Regions from separate parts of the Homo sapiens genome. Here all the other regions are reported to be linked to region 5. Evidence: microRNA targets listed by miRTarBase, many of them from high-throughput screens and not tested one by one. Region 5 holds a microRNA gene; each other region holds the end of a gene's coding sequence. Distances are from middle to middle.

Evidence for each region. Region 5 holds the annotated microRNA hsa-miR-6504-3p (CAUUACAGCACAGCCAUUCU, at 3,483-3,502, opposite strand). A microRNA usually pairs through its seed, bases 2 to 8, with sites in the 3' UTR of a target mRNA and lowers its output. Matches are read on the target gene's strand: a 7mer-m8 pairs with bases 2 to 8, a 7mer-A1 pairs with bases 2 to 7 and ends in A, and an 8mer does both.
Region 1: miRTarBase lists NSUN4 as a target of hsa-miR-6504-3p. Seed matches in the 3' UTR shown: 7mer-m8 at 2,459-2,465, 7mer-m8 at 1,973-1,979, 7mer-m8 at 1,600-1,606 and 7mer-m8 at 1,470-1,476.
Region 2: miRTarBase lists ANKS4B as a target of hsa-miR-6504-3p. Seed matches in the 3' UTR shown: 7mer-m8 at 3,052-3,058, 7mer-m8 at 2,123-2,129 and 7mer-m8 at 1,988-1,994.
Region 3: the mRNA of AHI1 is a reported target of hsa-miR-6504-3p. Seed matches in the 3' UTR shown: 7mer-m8 at 1,312-1,318, 7mer-m8 at 1,502-1,508 and 7mer-m8 at 1,640-1,646.
Region 4: the mRNA of RBM41 is a reported target of hsa-miR-6504-3p. Seed matches in the 3' UTR shown: 7mer-m8 at 987-993.

What each region holds. Positions count from the first base shown.
Region 1 is chr1:46,360,917-46,366,022 of GRCh38, reverse strand. NSUN4 (NOP2/Sun RNA methyltransferase 4) reads right to left here. Exons shown (of 6, transcript NM_199044.4): 6 at 1,005-4,453. The coding sequence ends at 4,177. Among named protein-coding and RNA genes, the nearest start is that of NSUN4, 23 kb to the right of the region's middle. RefSeq lists a silencer at 1,120-1,320.
Region 2 is chr16:21,249,794-21,254,892 of GRCh38, reverse strand. ANKS4B (ankyrin repeat and sterile alpha motif domain containing 4B) reads right to left here. Exons shown (of 2, transcript NM_145865.3): 2 at 1,043-5,099. The coding sequence ends at 4,073. Among named protein-coding and RNA genes, the nearest start is that of ANKS4B, 19 kb to the right of the region's middle.
Region 3 is chr6:135,281,545-135,286,650 of GRCh38, reverse strand. It overlaps AHI1 (Abelson helper integration site 1), which reads left to right. Exons shown (of 29, transcript NM_001134831.2): 29 at 1,004-3,119. The coding sequence ends at 1,006. Among named protein-coding and RNA genes, the nearest start is that of MIR548A2, 45 kb to the right of the region's middle. RefSeq lists an enhancer at 3,737-5,106.
Region 4 is chrX:107,063,238-107,068,343 of GRCh38, forward strand. It overlaps RBM41 (RNA binding motif protein 41), which reads right to left. Exons shown (of 8, transcript NM_001324242.2): 8 at 1-4,456. The coding sequence ends at 4,290. Among named protein-coding and RNA genes, the nearest start is that of RBM41, 53 kb to the right of the region's middle.
Region 5 is chr16:81,609,783-81,614,888 of GRCh38, reverse strand. It overlaps MIR6504 (microRNA 6504), which reads right to left and starts at 3,541; the gene lies at 3,481-3,541. The region is part of intron 2 of CMIP (c-Maf inducing protein); the gene reads right to left.

The DNA.
Region 1 (5,106 bases), not on the chromosome of region 5:
CCAAGTAGCTGGAATCACAGGTATGTGCCACCACACCCGGCTAATTTTTGCATTTTTAGTACAGACGGGGTTTTCCCATGTTAGCCAGGCTGGTCTTGAACTCCTGACCTTAAGTGATCCGCCCGCCTCGGCCTCCCAAAGTACTGGGATTACAGACATAAGCCACACTGCCCGGCCCACTACAATAAAGTTTAACGTTGATAATCCTAAGTGTTAGTACTAAGATGTGGAGCAAATGGACCTCTCATACATTGCTGATGGCCGTGCAAAATGGTAGATCCACTTTGGAAAACAGTATGGTGGTACCTTATAAAGTTAAACATACATTTACCATATGACCTAGCAATTCTACCCCTAAGTATTTACTCAGAAGAAAACATGGGCTGGGCACAGTGGTTCACACCTGTAATCCTAGCACTTTGGGAGGCCGAGGTAGGTGGATCATCTGAGGTCAGGAGTTCGAGACCAGCCTGGCCAACATGGCGAAACCCCGTTTCTACTAAAAATACAAAGAAATTAACCAGGCATGGTGGTGGGTGCCTGTAATCCCAGCTACTCAGGAAGCTGCAGCAGAAGAATCGCTTGAACCTGGGAGGCGGGGGTTGCAGTGAGCTGAGATTGCACCATTGCACTCCAGCCTGGGCAAAAGAGTGAGACTCCATCTCAAAAAATAAAAAAAGAAAAGAAAACACGTACTCACAAAATTATATGCCCAAAAGGTATTGGCAGCATTACTAATAATAGCCCCAAACTGGAAGCAACTCAAATGTCCATCAACTGGTGAACAGATAAACAACATGGTGGTATGTCTGCACCATGGAATACAATTCAGCAATAAAAAGGAACAAAACATTAATACTCACAACAAACTGAATCTCAAAAACATTACACTAAGTCAAAGAAGTCAAACACCAAAGACTACATATTGTATGATTCCATGTATATATGCAAAAATTTTCCAAGACCAAATATTTGAAAGGATTATCCAGGCTTCACAGAGCATAATCACTTAAGATTTTTATTTAAAGGCAAAGGATACAGGGCAGCAAGAGAAAGACTAGGTAGGTAAACATCAGGAATCTCAGAATTCCCAAATACAAGCTCCCCATGGTCCTTATGCACATGTGGACTGCACTGCAAAGTGCCTTTGGATTGAATCATCATGATCTATGTGAGGCATCCATCCTGGTTTTGGAAGAGCTCAAATCAGAAGTTCCCAGCAGGGCTTTTATGTTGCTCTGGCCATGTAATCAAGCCAGACATACGTAACTGGTTAGACCAGCTGCAAATAATCAATAAAAGGAGTGACCAGTGGAGCTTCAGACTTTATTTATTTATTTACTTATTTATCGAAATGAAGTCTCTTGCTGTCGCCCACGCTGGAGTGCAATGGCGCTATCTTGGCTCACTGAAACCTCCACCTCCCAGGTTCAAGCAGTTCTCCCGCTCCAGCCTACTGAGTAGCTGAGATTACAGGCACCTGCCATCATGCCCTTTTGTACTTTTATAGAGATGGGGTTTCACCACGTTGGCCAGGCTGGTCTTGAACTCCTCCTGACCTCAGGTGATCCACCTGCCTCAGCCTTCCAAAGTTTTGGGATTACAGGCGTGAGCCACCGCACCTGGCCGAGCTTCAGACTTTAAACAGCACATTATAAATCCCAATGCCTTTTTTTTTTTTTTTTTTTTTGAGACAGAGTCTCACTCTGTCACCCTGGCTGGAGTGCAGTGGCACAAAACGGAGTCTCACTCTCTTGCCCAGGCTGCTCACTGCAGCCTCAAACTCCTGTGCTCAAGTGATCCTCCTGCCTCAGCCTCCTGAGTAGCTGGGACCACAGGCACATGCCAGCGCACCCAGCTAATTTTTTTTTTTTTTTTTTTGGTAAAGACCAGGTCTCACTACATTGTCCAAGCTGATCTAGAATTCCTGGGATCAAGTGATCTTCCCACCTTGGCCTCCCAAAGTGTTGAGATTACAGGCGTGAGCCACTGTGCCTAGCCTATTTTCTATTTTCTACATCTTGATGGTGACTATACTATTATATACAATTATCAAAATTTATTAAACAATATATTTAAAATTTATGAACTATATTGTATGTAAAGAATAACTCCATAGAAAAGAAAAAACCTTTCATTTAGAAAGGGCATCATGCTACATTTACTCTTCTGGGATTAAACTTTTTTCACTTAATTATTTTATTGCTCAGATTCATCCATATGGTTAGGTATCATTATAGTTCATTTGACAATTGTATAATGTTCTATTATGTGAATATTCCAGTTTACTTGTCCACTCTCTTGCTCATGGGCATCTGGGTTATTTCTAGGCTTTTGCTTTTGTGAATAGGGTTGCTATGAATATTCTTGTACACATCTCCTGGTGTACATGTATGAGTTTCTCTAGGATTTATCCCCAGTATTGGATTAACTGGGTTATAGGGTAGCTGAATGTTCAATTACAGCAGATAAACTGTTTTCCAAAGTAGTTCTCTGCTTTTCTTATCTAGGTCTGCCTGTCCCCAATTAGATGATGACTCTAGAGGCAGGGGACCCTCTCATTTTGAATTACCACTGCTTAGCATTCAATTAGCACTAGGCTGGATATCCAGGAGTCCAAGGGCAGAAGCCCAGGCACCTGAGGCCTCTTAGCCTCAGCGAATACTAAGTACTATACAGAGTGAACAGCATGCAGGGACCATATGCCACGCACGGAGGCGGTTACGGTCCTACTCAGAGCACTAGCCATGCTCCTTAAAGCTCCATCTTCCTAGCTTCACCTGATTTTGAGTCTCAGAGATCTTCCAGGGCCCTCAATTACAATGCAAATCCCAAAAGAAGGCTTAACCTCAGCTAAAGTCCCTCCTCAACTGACACCTCTAATACCCAAATAAGGATGAGCAGGAAAGACAGAAGGGACAAAAAGAGTGGCAGGAAGAGGAGGAATAAGGAAAGTGGAAAAGCCAAGAAGCCTTCAGGTATTCTAAAATTATATACCCTTTTCTGCACAGGATGTTTTCCAGGAAAAAAAAAAAAAGTTTAAAAATAAAATATCTGCAAGTGACCCTGAGCAATTTTTTATATCCCTGCCACTAAAGGTTACTTTCTTTTGGCTAAAGTTACAAAAACAACATATCGAGTATGCAGTCAGTAAATGATGAAATCTTGCCCTGAACACAGTGTGTGCAGTGAAGCCCTGTGATGCTGAGGGAAGAGTTAGGGATTAGGGGGTGGGCCAAAGAACAGGCACCAGAGCTCAGCTGCAGACTAGAAACAACAAAAAGTCTGGAATCCAACAAAACAAAACATCAGGAAATTCCTAGGTGTTCAGAAAGCAAAAGGAGAGTTACCATTCTAAAGGATGAGGAAGCCCAGTAATCTCCCACAATCCCAACTGCTACATCTCCAAGAGCTCCCTAGCTACCTGTCATACACGAGGTCTGGGAATACCTGCTAGATGAATGAACAAAGAACAAGGCACGCACAAGAGTATGACGGTTTTGTGGCAGAAGCAGCCTCCTAAGCCACATTTGGGCAGCAGTATTGTTGACAGCAGGAATGGCCAGAATTATTCAGCTCAGAGGGTTTTTCCAATGTGAGTAGGTAAGCAGATTATTTTGCACTGGCTTAACATTTTTAGTTACTTGTTCCTTAAATTAGATCATGAGCCATATGGAAAAACCAGGCGGGCTTAATTGAGCCTGTTGGCTGCTCAAGACTGGTCAGGTGGAACTCACTTCAAGGGTGACAGGGGCTCAGTAACTGGCTGGTACAAATGGAACTAATGGCATTTGCACTGACATGAAGTCCCCAACTGCAGCCCCAGGTCTATAGAGTTTCAACAACTTTATTGGCCAAATGCTTCTCCTATGTTTACAACTTAGTGTGAGCCTGCTCACTGGCTTCTCCTTCTAAGCCCCTAAGCGGGCAGCAAACTTTAGTACAGGCCTGGAGATGGGGTAGGGGTTAATGAGTGAGTTGGAAACCTGCTGATGCTCCACAATTGGACAGCAGGACAGCAAATCTTCTACTTCTTATTGCCGAAAACTGCAGAAAGACACGAACAGGATGGAGACAGGACCGAGAGTGCATCTCTGCCACTGGTCCCAGTTTCCAGTTTCTGGTGCATCCAACAGAGTATACCCTTTGTATTCTTGCTTCAGGGATTGGGTGATACTATGTCAGCCTACGCATTTTGCAGAAGTACATGGGGCCAAAATTGGCCATGAGGTTTGGTATTACCAGCTCCCCAACCTGACAGGATGAGAAGAAACAAAATGTGTCCATGAAAACCCTTCGGAAGTGAGTCAGATCTTCCACCTGTACCTGGATGCTGTATTGATTGGCCAGGAGCTCAATGGCACCTTGCACCACATACTCGTTCTGTAAGTGTGAGAGTGAGCAGGTAGAATAGACAACATGGCCTCCTGGTTTGGTGGCAAGGAGTCCAGCCCTGAAACCAGAAAGAGACAGAAGCAGTTACTAGTGAGCTTCCCAGCAGTAGAAGAGCAACATAAGGAGCTGGAAACATGGATAAGGGAAGGCTACTACAGGATGGGTAGCTGGTTAGACTGCCTCTCAAGTCCCTTCCACAATGACACTGTCTGAAAAGTCACTCTCAAGGCAGATAGCAACCCAACCTTACTCCATGAGCTCTTCACTAGGAAGTCTCCTTACAATGACCCCCTGAGCTCTTGTTTATGGACCAAATTGCTATGCTGGCTATAGAATGAGTCCTTACTCTAGCAGCTATTTTTCAAACATGTGCTACTCACTGGTACTGAGGATGAAATAGCATGAGTCAATCTGTGCAGCCCACTCTAGTATATATATCCTACTAGATAGGGTTGCTTTTTTGTTTTTGTTTTTGTTTTTTGAGACAGAGTCTTGCTCTGTTACCCAGGCTGGAGTGCAGTGGCACGATCTCAGCTCACTGCAGCCTCCACCTCCTAGGTTCAAGTGATTCTCCTCCCTCAGCCCCCTGAGTAGCTGGGACTACAGGTGTGCATCTCCACACCCAGCTAATTCAAATAGGGTTTTTATGTTCCAGAGATGATCCCATTTCTGTCTCCTCTAGGCAGATCTCCAGCCATAAGATTCTTGTGT
Region 2 (5,099 bases), 60 Mb from region 5:
CAGTAAAGTAGAAAGTGACAAGAGACTTACATATTAAAAAGATTACGTGACTCAACCAGCCTTGTGGAGAATGAATTAAAGACAGATAAGGATACTTACAGCAATCCAGTGAGTGATGGTTGGGGGCAGGAACCAATAGGTCATCTTGCAAACATCAAAGAGGATTTAGCTCTGAGACATATTGAAAAGTTGAAAGGGCCTGGTGACCAATTGGGTGATGAAAAGAAGTATTGGGTTAAATTTTCCATTTATGAAAAATGAAGATTTAGAGCTGCATGTTTTAATGCAGCTGAAACTGAGCACGATCACTATTTGGGTCTCGATAATTCATTGTGGTGGTGGGCTGTCCTGTACATTCTAGGATGTTTAGCACCCATTGTTTCTACCCACTGGATGTCAGTTGCACCACTGTTCCCCTATCATGGCAATCAAAAAATGTCTCTAGATATTGCCACATGTCCTCTAGGAGACAGAGGGCAAAATCATCCAAGTTGAGAACTGACAACCTGGAAGAAAATGGGTTCAGTCCTGGACACACTGAGTATGGGGTACTTGTGAGACATGTGAGAGGAGATGTCAGATTAGATTTGGGCTTAAGTATTTGGTGCCCAAAGCAATGGTCTGGGCTGGTAACTTGGACTTAGGAATTCTGAGCATATAACTGACCTGTACTACACAATGGCCTGAAATATAAGCACAATACACATTTACCACACTATAACTTCTCAAACTCTCCTCTTCGGTGAAATGCTCCCAGCTGCTTTTCCCTCTTGTTGACTTTTATGTCAAGCTACATAGAGGGGGAAAAGAGGGGCCAGGAGGTGGTAGGGGTGACCAGATATTGGATTGAGCTACTCTAAGCATCTAGTTTAAGAGATGGAGGTCTGAGATCAGTGAGTACTTGAAGCTCATCCTGGCTCATAATCCTCTTGTCTTTGTCTCTTATCAAGGCCTTTGTATTGCTCTGGCATCTTCTCTTAGCCCCTGTAGTTGGTATTTAGTTCGAAAGATCTGGAATTCTTAGAACATTGATAACATCTTATAACATGGTATAAACCTTTTTTTATTATATAACAATACTCTGTGACGAAGAGACTATATCCTTGATGCTGAGAACTTTGGAGAACGCTCACCTATTAATTCTGTCAATCATAAAAGAAAAGAACCCCTAAGAAGAGCATAGAGGTACCTGATGAGACCCCTAGTGGCAAATATCTCCTAAAAAGGGATGAGAGTCAATGTTCAAGTTCATTTCTACCAACCTGAGTGATGGCTCTCTTGCTATGATGTAGTTACAGCAGGGGGTGGAGCAAATATCTCATTAGGCAGATTCCGGGCAATAGGTGAAGAGGGGATTCTGGCATCTATGATGATGAAATATAATAGTGGCAGGCACAGACTACAAACTTTTTTGAGCACTTTCTATTTGCCAACTGCTTCTGTGCACGTTAATGAAGGAAAGCACAACTTCAGTTTATTCCACAAGATAAGGTATTTGTAAACAATCATCCCCTAATGCAACGTGTTTATTCAATGGCTAACAAGCTTTCTGAATATATTCATTGAGGAAGAATAAGCCAATTGTTCATCAGATTTGAGCATCTGTATCCTCCCTAAACTTGAATCCTCCATGATGCCTCTTGAAGTAACCCAAACAGATGTGCATCAGAAAGCAAGCTGAAGATAAACAGCTGTTTCTGTATTATACCCAGAATCAACAGTAAATTCCACTTGATGTAAGTCAGCCTGTAGAGATCTAATGAAGCTTAGCTCTTCAGTGGGGTTTCAGTTTGAATTTGGGATTGCCATTGAAAAAATGTCAGCAGCAGTGTTGTCAGTTTCTTTTTTCTTTTTTTTTTTTTTTTTTTTTGAGATGGAGTCTCTCTTACCGCCTGGGCTAGAGTGCAGTGGTGCAATCTCAACTCACTGCAACCTCCACCTTTTGGGTTCAAGCAATTCTCTTGCCTCAGCCTCCCAAGTAGCTGGGATTACAGGCACACGCCACCACACCTGGCTAATTTTTGTATTTTTAGTAGAGACGGGTTTCCGCCATGTTGGCCAGGCTGGTCTTGAACTCCTGACCTCAGGTGATCTGCCTGCCTGGGCCTCCCAAAGTGCTGGGATTACAGGCATGAGCCAAGTGTTGTCAGTTTCTATCGTGGAACCTACACATATTCAGATATGCGGCAATGGTGACAGACAACAGTAAATAAACCATGTGTACATAATAAGCATGAAAATGTGAAATTTCCTTTGACAATCAAATCTTCCCTCCAAAGAACTTAGTTTTTTTTCCCCTTAAGTTTCACTAGGTGTTTACCCTTACAAAACTCATCAATTGCAGTTGGACAGACTTTTTTTCTGTATTTTTCTTGGTCTCCTCCCCAACCCTCTTACTTAGGACAGTATTATTCTGCTAGGACTGCCATAACAAAATGCCACAGACTGGATGGCTTCAACAACAGCAGTTTATCAACCGAAGTTTATTTTCTCACACCTTTGGGGGCTGAAAGCCCAAGATCAAGGTGATTGCAGGGTTGGTTTCTCCTGAGGCCCCCTCCTCGGCTTGCAGACGGCCACCTTCTCACTGTGTCCTCACGTGGCCTCTCTGTGTGCCTTCCACCTAAGTGTCTCTTCCTCTTCTTAGGACACCAGTCCTAGGCCAGGTGCAGTGGCTCATGCCTGTAATCCCAGCACTCTGGGAGGCCGAGGCAGGTGGATCACCTGAGGTCAGGAGTTTGAGACCAGCCTGGCCAACATGGTGAAACCCCGCCTCTACTAAAAATACAAAAACTTAGCCAGGCGTTGTGGTGCACGCCTGTAATCCCAGCTACTCAGGAGGCTGAGGCATGAAAAGTGCTCGAACCTGGGAGGCGGGGGTTGCAGTGAGCTGAGATCACGCCACTGCACTCCAGCATGAGTGACAGAGCAAGGCTCCATCTCAAAAAAAAAAAAAAAAAGGGAAAAAAAGGACACCAGTCCTACAGGATTAGGGTTGCATTCTTATGACTTCATTTAACCTTAATCACTTCTTTAAAGGTCTTATTTCCAATTACAGTCACATTAGGGGTTAGAGCTCCAACATATGAATTTGACGCAATTCAGTCCACAACAGGTACCACCTGTATTCTATCTCTTTCTTCACTCTCCCCACCACCACTCTGTCTCTATTCTCAGGCAGGAGTATTATAGACGCATTTCCATTACTTGTAAACATGTACACATTTGTTAAAGGGTTAGATGCATTTAAGTTGGGCATCAAGCCGCAGGCCAGGAAAGAACTCTAGTCTCTACCACTAGGCAAAGTCATAGATCTCAGGAGAGAAAAAGAATTGGAATTCCCAGGTTACACAGATCGGAAAGCAAGCAGCAGGATAATGTGATGAGATTATAATTTTAAATCCAGAGATAGAAAAGTAAAGGAAGTTTCTTTCATTTTCCTGTCATGCATATGACCCTTTCTTTATTCAAAAGTATCAAAAAGATAGGCTGGGTACGGTGGTTCACACCTGTAATCCCAGTGCTTTAGGAGGCTGAGGTGGGAGGATTGCTTGAGGCCAGGAGTTTGAGACCAGCCTGGGCAATGTGGCAAGACCCCACCTCTACTAAAACATACAAAATAAGCCAGGTGTGGGGGGTGTGAACCTGTAGTCTCAGCTACTTGGGAGGCTGAGGTGGGAGGAGATCATTTGAGCCCAGGAGGTTGAGAATACAGTGAACTATGATCATACCACTGCACCCTAGCCTGGGTAAGAGACTGAGACCTTCATCTCCAAAAAACAAAACAAAACAAAACAAAACAACCACAAAAACAATTATATGTACATATAAGATAACTGAAGAGAAATGCCAGATTCTTGTTATGAAGTCTCCTCAAGTTTCTCATGGAGATTTATTTGGATGGGCATAGCCTACCTCCCAGAGTAAAGTTTGGGTCTCTCTCTCAGGTAGGCATTTCCGATGCCCTAGAATCCATTCCCAGTGGTCTGGCATTGGGTAAAGAGGGGGTGCCGCCTGGAGTGCTGCCAGCGGGCCACAGCATCACCCCAATGCTCCAGGCCAAAACTCTCCATCACAGGCTGGTGTCGACCAGCTGCCCAGGCTGTTGAAGCACCTGCTTCCTCCTGTTGATAGCATTCAGAACTTTCTTCCTGGGACCCAGCTGCATTTGTATGCTCTGAAGGTCCTCATCAGAGCAGAGCAGCAGAGCTTCTAGATCAATCTGCTCTCTCTTGAAGATAGGCAGGAATTCTTCCAGGTGCTGAGACAGCAAGAACACTTCCAGGGGCGTGGCATCGACCACATCTTCCTCCCACTCCACTTCATCGTCATCCCACGGCAGATCATCTTTGAGGCCGTTTTCCTCTCCCTCTTCATCAGCTGCACCCTCATCAGCCTCTGATGCTCCTTGTCTTTGAAGCAATTCACTGGGCAGTTTAAAACCAAACTCTCTCTTGCTATCTGAGATGTCTTCAGGACTCGATATCCTGTTCCTTCTAAAAACAATACTTCCTAGACCTGGACGATTGAGAATGGATTCATGGTGCACACTGCCGTCCTCCTCTGCTGACAACTGGAGCTTCTCTTTGAAGTCCCCTGAGAACGAGTCTTCCTCTTCCTCTCTGAACACTTCCATCACGTTCCTCTGCCCACTTCTGCCTTCCTTCCCCACCTGTTCTGCTGTATCTTTGTTCTTCTTGAACTTGATCTTGAAAGTGTCTTTAATGCCCTTAGATAGTGACCCGAATGTGCCAGGAGCAGAAGCATTTGAAGGGGATGATCTGGAGAAGGTACCCTTGGAAGAAGAGAGAGTCCCGGATTCCTCCTTGCTGTAGGTGTGGGCCATCTTATTTTGGTGCTTCTCCTGGAGCCTCTCACACTCTTTGATCTGCCTCCTGGCATTCTTCTGAGCCTGCTCCTTCAGCCTGGTGACCTTCTTGGGGTTCATGATGTTCTGTGCAGTGGCAGCCTTGTCCAGGAGAGCAACACATTCATTCTGCTCCCTGCTGGCAGCAGCATCCAGTGGAGTCTGTAAGTCATTATCCAGGGCAAAGATGTTGGCACCAAAGTTGACCAGGAATGAGACGCAGTGGGCATGG
Region 3 (5,106 bases), not on the chromosome of region 5:
AAGATTGGGCCTGTTCCTTAAAGCACAGGTGTCCCCTACACCTCCTGTGCCCCCAGGGAAAGCCCTTCAGGAATGGTTAGCCATTGCCCTTTCTTGCCACAGTGTGCCAGCTGTCACTTTTCTCAGGAGTGGTCGATGGAGTTGACTGCTACCTTAACCAGATTTGCCATCGTTCTGAAACTGCCGTGTGTTTTCTAAGGACAACCAGGTGTTAAGCCTTTCTCTTTAGAAGAAGGACAGTAACCTTTCTGTGTAAGTCCAGAACTTATCAATGCTGTATGAATGATTGCATTAAAAAATGTTAGGTTTAGCCCCACTAATTTATCTCACACTAGTTGTAGTGCAAATACTACATGCTGTCTAAGGAAGCAACTTCTTGTTTCATCTGCATATTGGTTCTTGATTTTTATGAATTGTATAATTTGTTTTACATCAAAGCCACATCTGGATGCTTGATTGTTACTATCTTGGTCAAAAATGAGACAGCCCATTTTTTAATTGATTTGAAAAATGTAATAACCTAATTATATAAAAGTAGGCATAGCCATAGACTAAATGAAAGAATGCTATTTAATAAAATTATCTGTATCCTTCCGAATCACTAACCCTGAATATCATCCATGAGGACTTTTTTTCCCATTCAATGAAGAATTTCATATACTCTGATTGCCTGCTCTTCATTTCTGGAAGTTACTTATGGTTTGGAGTTTTTAGTGTCTATATTTGGGGATTTTATTTCTTTCTTGCTTACATTAACCTGTCAATGCAGGAGCAGGCCTTAAACAATTGCTAATGATACAAAAAGATGCTAACAATGTTTGAGAGGCAAACTAGAAGATAGGAAATTAGTATTTTGGTCTTTTTTAGTTGTGTTTGTATGTGTTTGTGTTTTACACAATGTCCTTTATTACCTGTGCTGTTGCCTGAGCACACTAAGATTTGGTTGTAGTCAGAAGACATTATTCAAGTTTATTTAGTACATTTTGTGTATTTTTCTTTCCAGTAAAGAATTGAAGAAAAGTTAAGAGCTGCCGAAATGCACAGAGGTGAAAATGACAAACCAAATGGAATTTCTCTTCAGAGTTCAGAATTTTCAGATACTAAGGAGGAAGAAAGGATCCACTACTTCTTGTTCTTATGAATGACTCTAGAAAAATCAGAATCAAGTTGTGGGTGGAAAAATCAACGTGGCCTTTGAGTTCAGTTGTTATAAACCATTGTGACTATTGTTGGTCAAAGTATTGGTACTTATATTGTTAGTAATTGCATCATAATTACATTACCAGTGTTGGAAAACTAATGAAGAAAACACTGTAATTGCTACTCAGCAAATGTGAATAAAAGGTGTTTGCGTTATTAGGATGTCTGTTAAGTAATCATTTAATATTATTATATTGGTAATGGTTGTATGTGTGATGCTATGCCCAGAATATGAAGTATCTGTTTTTGAAATTCACTTTATTTAAAAGATAAGCAGCTGACTGGGCACGGTGCCTCATGCCTGTAATCCTAGCACCTTGGGAGGCTGAGGCAGGTGGATCACCTAAGGTCAGGAGTTCAACAACACCAGCCTGACCAACATGGTGAAACCCCATCTCTACTAAAAATACAAAAATCAGCCGGGTCTCATGGCAGGCACCTGTAATCCCATCTACTGAGGCAGGAGAATTGCTTGACCCAGGAGGCAGAGGTTGCAGTGAGCCAAGATCACGCCATTGCACTCCAGCCTGGGGGACAGAGCAAGACTCTATCTCCAAAAAACAAAAAAGATAAGCAGCTTTAGAATATGGCGCATTCAAAACAGTCTCAGTAACAAAGACATTAAAAGAAAACAATTTACTTTCTAATTAAAATTTTGTGTTTCTTAAGATCAAATCATATAGGTAACTTCATAGACCTAAATTAAAAGTGATTTTTGGCTGGACTGGCAACAATGTTCCCAATGTCTTTACTTTTTAAAAAAGGCTTTTCATATTTAAGCACATACCTATTTTGTAGACTTACATTGTTTAATATTTATTTTAATCTTAATATTTTTACATTATTATATTGCATTATTTATTTTTTCTAAGTTCCAGAATAATAGTGTCATTATTATAGACTATATGTTTTGAAGTTTGATATTATAATGGGATATTCATTTTTTGTTCTTTTCTTGACTCCTTTCTCAAGTGTGTGATAAGGTCTGCTGATAAAATATTTAACCCCAAGAAAGTGAAAACTAATATAAAATTAGAAAGACCTATCCAAATTAGACAGTCAATTCCATTAAAATAAGAAGTGAGAAAAACAATGTTGGGCATTGAGGTGTAAATTTTGCCCAGATGTATACCCAGTGTGAAATATCTTCTAATAAAAATATATTTGGCTCTTATCCCTGCACATGTAGAGGCATAAAAATTGGTAAACATGTCCCGCTGTGTAGAACTTTAAAAAAAAGGCATTTTTGAAAGTGTTGAGTGGCACTGATAACTGGTGAAGCCTACAGCCATCCGCCCAAAAGTCTGTTCTGATGGCACTGAGTTTTCATTGTTCTGGATGTATAAGTCTGTGTGTCAGGTACAGCTGGGCCCAGCCAGCTTGAGTCACTCTTGTACAAGCTTGTTTTTTTCTGTCTTGTGAATGCACTTGATAATTTAAAAATAAAAATATCTGTTTCTCTGCAGTTTCAGCTAATAATTTTGAGATATGTGTTGATTTTCTGATTGAATCACCAAGAATTTCAACAAGTTTAGAAATAATTTAAGATGAATGAAAAATATGTCAGGGGGAGCTAAGCATTTGCTAAGCTCTTGATGTTTATATGAAAAATAAAGGGTTGTTTTTATATTGCAACTACTAAAGAGAAAAATAGCAGTTGAAGCAAACACCAGGAAAATTTGGCTCTACTGAAAGCCCAGTCCTTTTCCCCTTTGTCTCGCTGACAAAGTAAGACTAGGGTTATGTTCATGAATAGATTAATAAAAGATGTTTCTTTACCACACAATCTGAGATGAGATGGGGTGGGGGAGATCATGACAGTGCCCTCCAAGCAATAGATCCAGCTGATAATCAAGCAGAAAATCAGACACCAGAATCCATTTGATGATGTACGGCATTAAACATTTCCTTATAACAAATTGGGTTTGTTTTATCTTTATTCTGAAAGTACTGAATTTTATCCCATGTCATCTCTTTTCTCCAAACAAGTAACAATTTGACACTGTCTTCTTCTATATCTAAATAATATTTTTAAACCATTGTTGGAAATGCACTGCCCAGTTATTCATCCAACTCTGTCTTGAAGATTAATGTTTCTTCAGTATTGAAATGATACTATGTATAGGACTTGGAAAGCTAGAATAAAAATCAAGTTTTTAAAAGATTTAAAACATGAAATATTTTACACAGTGAATGCAAATTTATGTTTAAAATGCATATTTTAAATGAAATCAGTGCTTTTAAATGGCTAACGCTTGGTACTTCTGAAATCTTGTGCAGGGTTTCTATCACATACAAATGAATACTTGACCTTAATATTATCTTTAAATTATAGAAGAATTTAATTAAAGAAAGATGTCTTTAGGAAGCTCAGCAAGACTATATTTGAGAAATAACTTACCATTTTATAGCTTCATGTGACATGTTGTCACTTTAGTCATATATTTAGCCACAAATATTTTTAAGAGTTAGGAAGTTCTAGAAACTATAACAAAAGTTTGTGACCTTACACTTCTATGTGTATTCAAATGATTTCCATCTGATGGCCATATCTGTTTAGTGAATTATGGAAACACTTTTAAGCAATCCAAATGTTTTAAGCTATATATTTGTTCGTTTCTATTTAATTGAACTGTACCGAAAATAGTCCCCAAATCCTCACTTTATTATGTACATGACTTCATTTACTCTTCACATCAAATCTATGAGATAGATAAAATCTTCCCTGCTCTAGAACTAAGGAAACCAAGTTCTGAAGGTTAAGTAACTTCTCCAACTGCACAACTCCAGCCACTGCTAGTTGCAAATGGAGATATCAGACTCCACTGGGTGATCTGTAAAGTACTGGATCTCAGTTGCTGTGGAGAGGAAAATGCTGATATTTGGACATGACAACACACACAAGAGTAAGGAAGCAGTTGGCATGTGCCTATGACCACACTCAGGGACTAGAAACATCTCAAATGTTTGTCATTCAACAGTGACCTAAATAAAATAAAATATATCTGAGTGAACTTTTTTTAAAAAAAACTGATCATTTGTTTATCATAATTATTTTAGTAAATCTTTACTCCATACTATAATTATGTTTCCTTAAGAAACAGATTCTGTAGAATCAAACTAATTACATGTACAGTAACATTTTATTCAAGAAACCGAAAAGGCGCCATTCCAGTCATATATGAGAGAATAAAAACATCAAGAAGCATGTCAATCAAAAGGCTGTGTTGACTGGAGAACTCATTCTATGGATGGACACAATTATATGCAGGAGAATTGAATGTCAGCATCATTTAGGGTTAACAATGGACTAACTAGGCAAAAGCAGACAGCTACTCTCTGCCGAGGCCCAGGAAGCAAACTTGGTAATGAGGCACTTCATTCTTCATATCCTTCTGCTCTAATTATTGTGAATAGGAAATACTTTAAGCTAAGGCGGGAACTGGATAACAAAAACATTTGTTTTGTAAACACAAAGAATGCTATTTTTCTAATGATCCCCTTCAAATCTACATCAAGCATATGTTGTGAGCAGTGGGTTTTCTAAAGTTGCTCTTCTAACACCTCAAATTCATACTGATTATAGATGGGTTATTTTCGTCTCGAAAAGCTAGGGAGGCTAATGCTGCTAAGAATCAATTTTAGTTTCTCGTCAATCTAAAAAAGGGATATGTACACCACACATAATTCATGTTCTACCTCTTATCACTTAGGTCAAAATGCTCCAATACATACTTCAGTGTTATTTCTAAAAGTACTAAGCAATATGATTTTTACTCACTGTAGTTCATTTCTTCATAAAAATGATTTGAGCCCAATGAAAGAATAGAAGAAAATTTAAGAATGGTTTCCTTATAAAACATTTATGTAAGTAAACTCAAATATTGCCAATCAAAGGATGATTTC
Region 4 (5,106 bases), not on the chromosome of region 5:
AACCACTAATCCACTTTCTATCTCTATATATTTGCCAATTCTGGACACTTCATATAAATAGTATCATATAATATGTAGTCTTTTGTGACTGGCTTCTTGCACTGAGCATATTCTGAGTTCTTCCATGTTGTAGTATGTGTCAGAAGTGTTCACCACTCTTCTACTTTTTGAAAAAGTTTGTGAAGAATTTGTATTAATTTTTCATTAAAAGTTTTGTAGAATTCATTTAAGAAGCTATTTCAGCCTGGGCTCTTCTTTGTGGGTATCTTTTCAAAAACTCATTTAACCTATTTACTTGATATAGGTTTATTCAAGTTTTCTACTTCTGAGTTGGTTTTGGTAGTTTGTGTCTTCCTAGGAATTTGTCCACTTCATTGATAATTTATTGACATAAAATTATTCATAATATGCCTTCATAATCTTTTTTATTTCTACAAGTTCAGTTGAAATGTTCCCTCCTTCATTTCTGATTTTAGTAATTTGATTCTCCTTTTTTCCTGGTCAGTCTAGCAGAAGGTGTGTCAGTTTTACTGATCTTTTTATAGAATCAACTTTTGGTTGCATTGATTTTTCTCTACTTTTCTTCACTCTATTTCATTTATTCTCATCTAATCTTTTATATTTCCTTCTTTCTCCTGGCTCTAGGTTTAGTTTGCTCTTCTTTTTCCAGGGTCTTAAGGTGTAAAGTGAGGTTAGTGCTATGGTCTTTCTTTTCTTTTTTTTTTTTTTTTTGAGATGGAGTCTCGCTCTGCTGCCCAGGCTGGAGTGCAGTGGTGCAATCTTGGCTCACTGCAAGCTCTGCCTCCCAGGTTCACGCCATTCTCCTGCCTCAGCCTCCCGAGTAGCTGGGACTACAGGTGCCCACGACCACGCCTGGCTAATTTTTTGTATTTTTAGTAGAGACAGGGTTTCACCATGTTACCCAGAATGGTCTCGATCTCCTGACCCCATGATCTCCACCCGCCCCGGCCTCCCAAAGTGCTGGGATTACAGGCGTAAGCCACTGTGCCTGGTCTTTTTTCTTCTTAAGTACAGGCATTTGTACCTATAGATTTCCCTGTAAACACTGCTTTAGCTGCATCTTGTAAGTTTTGGTTTGTTGTGTCTTCATTATCACTCATCTCAAAGGGTTTTGTAATTTCCCTTATGATTTTTTTCTTTGACACATTTTTTTTTTTTTTTGGTAATGACAGGGTCTTGCTGTGTTGCCCAGGCTGGTCTTGAATTCCTGGTCTCAAGGGATCCAAGGAATCCTCCCACTTCGGCCTACCAAAGTGCTGAGATTTCAGGCGTGAGCTACTGCACCCAGCCAGTCACTTACAAGTGTGTCTGATTTCCACATATTTGTGAGTTTCCCAACTTTTCATTGTTTTCTAACTTCATCCCATGTGGTCAGAGGGCATGCTTTGCATGATTTCAGTCTACTTATATTTATTAAGGCTTGTTTTATGCTTTAACTTATGACCTATTTTGGAGATGTTTCATATGCACTCGAGAAGAATATGTATTCTGATGTTGGGTGGAAAGTTCTATAGATGTCTTTTAGGTCAATTTGCCTTATAATGTTGTTCAAGTCTTCTATTTCCTGGTTTATCTTCTGTCTAGGTGCTCTATTATTGAAAAAGGGGTATTGAATATTCCAACTCTTTTTATGGACTTATCTGTTTCTCCTTTCCTTTCAGTTTTTGCTTCATGTATTTTGGGCTCTACTGTTAGATGCATATATATTTATAGTTGTTACATCTTCCTGATGTATTGACCCTTTTATCATTGTAACATTTTACTCTTTATCTCCAGTAACATTTTTTTAAGTCTATTTTGTCTGGTATTAGAATAGCCACTCCAGCTTTCTTATGGCTGTTGTCTGTGTGATATATTTGTTTTCCATCCTTTTACCTTTAATCTCTTTCTATCTTCTAAAGTGTGTCTCAAATAGATGGCATGAAGTGGAATCAGACTTGTTTCTGACATCTCTGCCTTTTATAGTATTGCTTAATCCATGCACATTGTTATTTTGATATAGGAAGACTTATGACTGCCATTTTATTGTTTTTGATATGCCTCAAGCTTTTTGCTTCTCCATTCCTTCTTTTGCATTATTTCATAATGTGATATTTACATTTAATAATATTTTTGATTTTTTAAAAGTTATTTCCTCAGTGGTTGCTCTAGGGCTTACCATACACATCTTAACTAAACAGAATAGGCTTCAGATAAACACTAACTTAATTCCAATGTAACAACCCTATTCCTATATAAACCCATCCCCCGCTTTGTGGTATTATTGTTATATATGTTATTCCTATACATTACAAACCCAACACACATTATTATAATTACTTAATATAATTTTACATCTTTAAAAGAAGCTGAGAGAAGAGTAAGTATATGTTTATAGTTTTTTTATATTAAACTTATTTCCTATTTCACGTTCTCTCCATTTGTTCCTGTGGATTTGTCTTACCATCTGGAGTCAGTTCTTTAGTACAAGACAGTTTTGCTTCCACTCAGCTTCTTCAACCTGTTATCGGCAAATATATTATATTTTATACGTTATAGGCCAAACGATGCAACTATATACATATTGTTTTATACAACTGTGTTTTACATTAGTTAAGAGAAAAAAGAAAAATGCATAGATTGTTTCTGATAATTACATAATTATTTTTGCCTGTGCTCTTTTTCTGCATGTGTGTAGATTCAGATTACTGTCTGTGGTCACTTGCTTTCAGGCTGAAGAACTTCCTTTTGTATTTCCAGCAAGTCAGGTCTGCCAGCAACAAATTCTCTTGGTTTTTGATTATGTGAGATGTTTTATTTCACGTTCATTTTTGAAAAATAGTTTTATTGTATATAGGATTATTGGTTGACAGTTATTTTCTTTGAACACTTTGAATGTGTTATTCCACTGCCACTGCCATTGTTTCTGAGGGGAAGTCAACTACTAATTTTATTTGGGTTCCTTGGTAAGTGATGGCTCATTTTTCTCGTATTGCTGTTAAGATTTTCTTTTCGTTTTTGGGTTTTAGCATTTTTCTTATGATGTATCTGTCTGTAATTTCTTTTTCTTCTGGGATGTATAGGTTAATGTCTCTCATCAAATCGGGGGTATTTATAGCCATTATTTCTTAGAATATTTTTCTGCTCCTTCATTTCTTTTCCTTTTTTCCTGTACTCCCATTAGAAATATGTAGGAATGCTTAATGGTGTCACACAGGTTCTATACTCTTGTTCAATTTTATTCATTGTTTTCCTTTCTGTTCTTCAGCCTGGATAATATCTCAGTTCATCTTCACAACCCAGTGAGGTAAGTAGCATTATTATCCTCACTTTATAGATGAAAAATGTGAGGCTCAGATTAAGTGACTTGCCAAGGTCATAGAATGTTAAGTGTGGCTGTACAGGTCTGACTCCAGTTTGTACTACTTCCTCTCTGTATATTGTTTTTTTATTTTCCAGCAACCATAAACAAACAACTGGGGGATTTGTGACTGGCATCCTCTTTTCTAGAGAACGCTTTATTTCCATTTCCGTTTGGCATTCTTTGCTTGTATGTTCCTCTTCTAAAATTCATATGCCTAATATTTAACATATATTAGACACTTAATCAATGTTTATTGCTATGAATTCAATGATACTCAATGGTTGCTAGCTTAAATGGCTGTGAGAACACCAACATTTTGATCTAAAATATTTCACTAGAAAAATATATAGCTTTTTGAAGACTGATAACTTGTGGAGGAAGCATTCATTAAATAAGTCAACTGACTTATGAAACTACCTACTATTACTGCTGATAGTTCTGACTTAATAGCATTTGTTGATGCTTAGGCCTGGGGGTCCTACTCTTTTATTTACTAGGTGGATGAAATATGGCAAATGGGCTCTAGTAAAGAAATATTTCAACATTTAATTAGTTTTTTATTTCTGTGTATACGAAGCAGTCTAAGAAAGAATGTTATCTCTAGAGACAAATATTGAGGACCCCAGAAAAATTATAAAGATTTTTAAAAATCCTTAGGAATAATCCGTTGTAATTCATCCTGAGAAAATAATACTCTTTGCACTTTACCCTTCATACTCAGCATATCATCTGTCCTATATAGTCTTCAATTATATAATAGAAAATGTTTTCTACCAGTTCTCTCCAAAAGCTGAAATTACTTTTTTCCCCTCCCTCAGTTAGTTTTTCCTCTTCAACTCCAAACAAACTGGTGTCTATACATAAATCCTAGATCCAAGATTCCAATTCAAGAAAGACCATCCAGGACCCACAATTTATATATATTCTAGCTACCACTAATTTCTGTAGTGCTACCTGTAGCACATGATATGAGAGAAGTCGCTTGGAGATTTGACCGTTGCTTTTTGTTCTTTCCAAACTCTATCACCAATATTTTCCCATGTAGTTTGTATCCATTTACTAGATGCAATGCTTGCCATGCTATCTCCTTATCTAAAAGAGAAAGAAAAAATTTCAATTTACATAGGACTTAATAATTCAATTCTATTCCAGGTTTAGTTTAGATTATTTTGCCTTGGAGTTAAATGTAAGCTATAAGGCCATATAGTCATTTGATTTGATCATTTTTTCTATAATCTCCCATTTGCATTATTAAGCAAAATTAAATTAATGGCAAAAATAATAACAATAAAAACTCAAAATCGGTGTTTGAGGGTGTCTCCTAATTCAAAGAAACAAGTAGAGAAACAAAGACATAGGCAGCGTGCTAAAGAAGTCTAAGCTATTAGTAATTATACACAAGTCTCTATCTTAGGTAACAGATTATAGGTATTATTAGAATCAATCATTTTCAAAATGAGTAACACAAAAGAAGTTATCATGTTATCAAGGGCACTTTGCCACTTTTTTTTCAGTGGGAGAGTGGTTCTGGGCCACCTTATTGGGATAAATAAGTATAAGAACACTTGTAGGCATATTGAAGGTTGAAATGTGAGAATATATACTACATGCCAGGAGTATTCAACTTATGGGTCTAAGAGCCTGGATGTAAGAAATAAGGAAGGGATGATTTGTGGCCAGGAGTTTGTGGAATCCTAAGTAGACAAGTAGACTAAACCAATTTTGTTTCATATATATAAGTA
Region 5 (5,106 bases):
ACATGCACATACCACACACACATGCACACACAGAGATACATGTGCATACACACCGTATACACATATACATACCACATATAAACACACATATCAGGCACACACATGCACACATACCACACACACCACAGACATAGACACATACACACTCACAGAGACACACATGTGTACGCACACACATGCAGACATACCATACACACACACACACACATAAACCATACAGACATACATACACACACACCACAGTCCCACACGCAGGACTGTGCAGGTAGTTTTGGAATCTACCATGGACCACGGCTTAAGGACCCAGGTCTAACCCAACCTTTCCTCCACTGCCACATTTCCACTGGGGAAACCAATGCATATACCACACACACACCCAGACTTGCTGGGGTCATCATTTGTGTCATTTCCAGGTCTCTTCCCTCCGGGCTCCTGGCAAGCACACAGGCCAATGCAACGAGCTGATGTCATGCTGAAGTGACCCGTGGCCCGCGCGTGGGAGCCCCTGAGAACCCGTGCACCGCTTGGCACACTCCCTTCCCCCACTGGCCCATGGTGGACACACAGCACAAGTTAGAAACAATGCCGTGCCGCTTCCAGCCACCTAGAATGCGTGGTCGCTGGTGACTGTGGCAGCACCTGGCCTGCCCTGCTCTCAGACTGGCTTCCATGCAGCGTGTACTCCCCCACCAGGAACATTCTGCTGTCACCCCCTTCTCTCCGCTGCCCGCTGGACTCCTACTTACACTTCAGGTCCCTCCTGAAATGCCACTTCTCCAGAATGACTGTCTTGATGGTGCCTTCCCCTCCCCATCCCCAACCAAACCAGGCCAGAATGCCTCGCCTAACGCATCACACTGTCCTGGAATCGCCTGTCTAGTTGTCCTTCTTCTGCAGGCTATGGGCTCTGGGAGGTCAGGAACCACGTCTGACTTAGGCACCACTGTGTCCATGAAACCCGGAGAAATGTTTGTTAAGTGAAAGATTGGTTGAAGTGTTGAATGAATGAATGAATTGGATAGATGGAGACATGGATGGATGGAAAAACAGATAAGACAGATGGACAGTCTGATGGATAAATGGATGGGTGGGCGGATAGATGGATGGATGAATGGGGCATTCATATACCCATTCTGCTCAGCGAAGAAAGTCCACACACAACAGACCTTCAAAAGAACTCTTCAGCTCTGATTCCCTCTCTTCCCCAAACTGTATTTGACTAAGACTCTAAAAATGATCATGGCAGTGTTTTCTTGAACACCTACTAAGTACCAGGCACAGTGCTAAGTATTTTACATGTAATATCTACGAGCCTCACAATATGCAAGGAGACAAGTATTAGAGTGCGTTTCACAGATAAATTAAATGAGCCCCAGAGAGGTTCTTCCTGCTGTTTAGGGTTCCACAGCTAGAATGTGGTAAAACCTAGGGTTCCATGGCTAGTTAGAGTCTAAGGATCCAGAGCTAGTGCCCAGGGAAGTTGGGCAGGAACTCAGGTCTGTCTGACCCCACAGTCTTCCCTCCCTGCAATCCAGCCCTGGAACATGAAGCAATGCATCTGAGCTCCTCTGGATTCCCAGGACTTGGGTTGGGACATCCGTGAGCATTATTTCTCCATGGTAGCTGCCCTACTGATGAAGCAGGAGGAGGAAGGATGTGGCACGCAGGAGACCTCACCTTGAAACTAAGGGAAGCGCCAGAACTTGCCTCTAGGAGAGCAGGTGGAGGCTGATGGAGCCAAAAAGGTTGGGACAAGGCCGGACTGTAAACTGCTCGTTCCTTTGGCTTGTCTACTTTTGAAGGAGGACATACGCTGCTAGGCAATGTCTTGAGTCCCAGCACAGGCATCTCTAAGGGGCTTCCAAGCAAAGGGAAAGCTGACCAGGCTGCGTTCCAGCTGGGGGAAGGGTCACGCTTCTGTGCAGAGTCCCCATACTGTCCTGCTGGTGGCTGAGCCAAGAGAACTCAGCCCAGTGGGAACATAAGGCATGGCTGGAACCCCGAGGGTCACTCTGAGGAGAATCCATTCAGACCTGGGAAAGGTCCCCCAGCCCAACCCTGAGGGTCACTCAGAGGAGAATCCATTCAGACATGGGAGAGGTCCCCAGCCAGACCCCAAGTCCCCCGGAAGCCTGCGGGCAGCTGGTTCCAGGCTTCCGACTTCTGGTGTTAAATCTTTGGAATGCTGAAAGGGCCTGGTTCCAGGCAAACGCTGCCCAATTTCCTCTCCCAAACTTGCCAAGTTCTTTCTCATTGTTGCATTGTCTTGAGAGGTGAGAAAAACAGCCCAGGGTGCGCTGTGAGCGACCTTTTCCAAGCTCCCCTTCCCCGGCCCAGTTTCTTAGGGAAAAGGAGCTTCCTTTCTTACTGGAAGCTAGAGAGTGAGACCTTTCTGGTGCTTTCCAGACCGGAAAAGTCCTGCTTGCTACCTTCCAGTAAGAAAGGAACCCACCCCGTCCCTGCCCTGCTGCCAATGTTTGGGGTAAACAGTTGCCCCGCCTCCTGCAGGACTTTCCAGAACATTGGTGAGAAGAGCCGAGTCCCGGAACCCATCCCCGAAAGAAGCAGACACTCTTGGGAGGAGGGTCTCCCTGCTCTTATCTTGCCTGAAGCCTTGTTTGTGGAGCAGCGGCTCTGTCTAATTTTTGCTGATGGGCAGCCACTCAATTTTTAGGCAGAATCCCCCAGAAGATGATCTGCGCCGCGCTGCTCTTTAATGCCTGCTACCCCATCCCAGGGGCCAGTGACAGCACCTTCAGGACGTTTTCATGACACTGTCTATGTACTTACATGCTTGGCCTCCCCACAATGAAATGCTAGCAGAAAGGGCATCAATGGAGGAAATGGGATAAACAGGCCCTTTCTGCAACGAGGGATTCTAATAACATGGCAGTGAGGGAGCTCACGCTGAAAACACAAAGCATCCAAAACACACCAACTGGACCCACGCTGGAAGGCTGGGCGCCTCTGTCTGCCAACTCAACCTGCTGGTAGATTGCTCTGTCTCTGAGCTGGGGATGAGGGGCATGGGCCTGAATGTCCTCTCTGCCTTCCTTGAAGGATCAGGTCAGCTCCCCGAGGTCTGCAAGAGGCATTGATTCAAATTCTAACAAAGTAAGAGTTTTACAAAGAGCTCCTTAGAAGACAGAGAGAGCGGAGGAGGAGGAAGAGAAGAGGGGAGAGACACACAGAGAGGACTGGGGGACAGGCTCAGAGGTGGTGAGAGGCCTGGAGGAAGGACCTGCAAGAGAAGCCCAGAGTGAGCCACAGCAAGGACTAAAGAGAGAGAAAGAGGAGAGGCAGGAGGGGACAGAAGGGGAAGGAGGGGAGAGAGATGGAGAAAAGGCATGAGAGAGAGGAAAACAGACACACATGGATGCAAAGAACCTGAAAGAGACAGAGATGGAGAGAGATCAGGCAGGCTGGGGTAGGGAAGGGGCACTAGCCCTCTTTGGGCCCCGCCATTCCCCTTGTCTGTAGAGAGAATGGCTGTGCTGTAATGCAGCAGGGTGCAGACTGCATTACAGCACAGCCAGACTGCAAGATCGAAGAGCCCCCTGTGATCTGACGTGATTCGCCCCAGGAGGGGCTCAGGTGCCTGCAGTATGAGGTCAAAATGAAAAGGCCTCGAGGTCAGCACTGCTCCACAGAACTTCGTGTGTCAATGGAAATGTTCTTTATGTGCGCTGTCCAACACAGCAGCCTTTGGCCATGTGTGGCCCCTGGCCACTGGAGGTGTAGCTAACGGGACTGAGGAACTGTGTTATTAATTTGATGAGTAAATTAAATCCATCTGTGGGCTGCCATGCGTGGCTGCTGGTGGCTGTGCCGGGCGGCACCATTTAAGGCACTTTCACTCATCTGCTGACTAGGAGCACTAAGGTAATGCCGTTCAGATGGGCACCTGGCTGTTTCTTGGTCCCCTCTCCCACCCTGGAGCAGGGAAGATCTGTCCCCAGGGCCAAAGGGGTTGTTCTCTGTGACACCACGGCTCTGGGATCTAATACAGTATGTTGTATGTGAATCAAGACAAAGTACAGCCTCTCAAAGCAGAGGGTCCTGCCACCCGTCACAAAAGGCACGTGAATACAACCAGGACTGAAGAAAGCCCTGAGTACCACACCAGGGGCCAAGTGCACCCCGCCCCAGCCTCCCTAGAACCACACAGACTCGCTAGCCCTGTTTATAGAATGAGCCAGCTACATACCACCCATGCATCACGGTGGGCAGAGTGTGGGGGTGAGGATGAGAGGGAAGCAAGGGAGAAGCCGATCCAGGTCTACCTCCCCTGACGGAAATGGCAGCCAGGGAGAGAACCACAGCCGCCAGGGGCAGGGGCTGCACCCACCTGGGTTCCCCTTGGGGGAAGGGTTGGGAGGCCGTGTCTGCTGCTCCCTCATTAGCTCGGAGTCCGGCTCTGGATCTGAGGAGTTGCAAGCCGCCTCCTCCTCCTCCTTTTCCTCTGCTTCCTCCTCTCCTGCTCCTGCCTCTGACTGCGCTGTCCACGGGATCAGGGGGCAGTGAGCAAGTGGGATGCTGGAGCAGCTAGAGGCTCCCCGCCCGCTCGGCTCCTCAGCACCACGGCGGCAGCTCTGTCCTGAAGCCCTGCCAGACACGGCGGCCAGGCGAGTCATCACAGCTGGGCCCGCGGCCACAGCCGGGTTAAAGGGACATTCCAGGCACTGCTTCTCTGCTTTTCAGCCTCACTGCCCCTCCATCCCTGTGGCGAGTGATGCTCTGGCCTCCTTTGGAGGCCAGGGCTGCCCCTCCAGCCCCAGAAGGAATGAGGCCCCTTTGCTGGTGGAGCAGGAAAGTGGAGGCTCAGGGCCTCCTCTCCTCCAACTGGAATGTTTCAAGGGGCTCCCTCCTGCCTCTCTGTCATGCACAGATCTAGGCCCCTCTGCCCTGCCACCACACTGATTCCTCTAGTGTCCCTCTACCCCTTCAGAGCTTTCAGTGGCTGCCTATTGCCTTTGGAAGAGGGTCTGAGGCTTCTTCACTTGGCTGGCAAGGCCTGGGTGATCTGGCCATCGCCCAACAGATCTAGACATATCCACAGCCCCAAACTCCATCTCTCCATCTCCTCCAGCTGCAGCAAGTACCCAG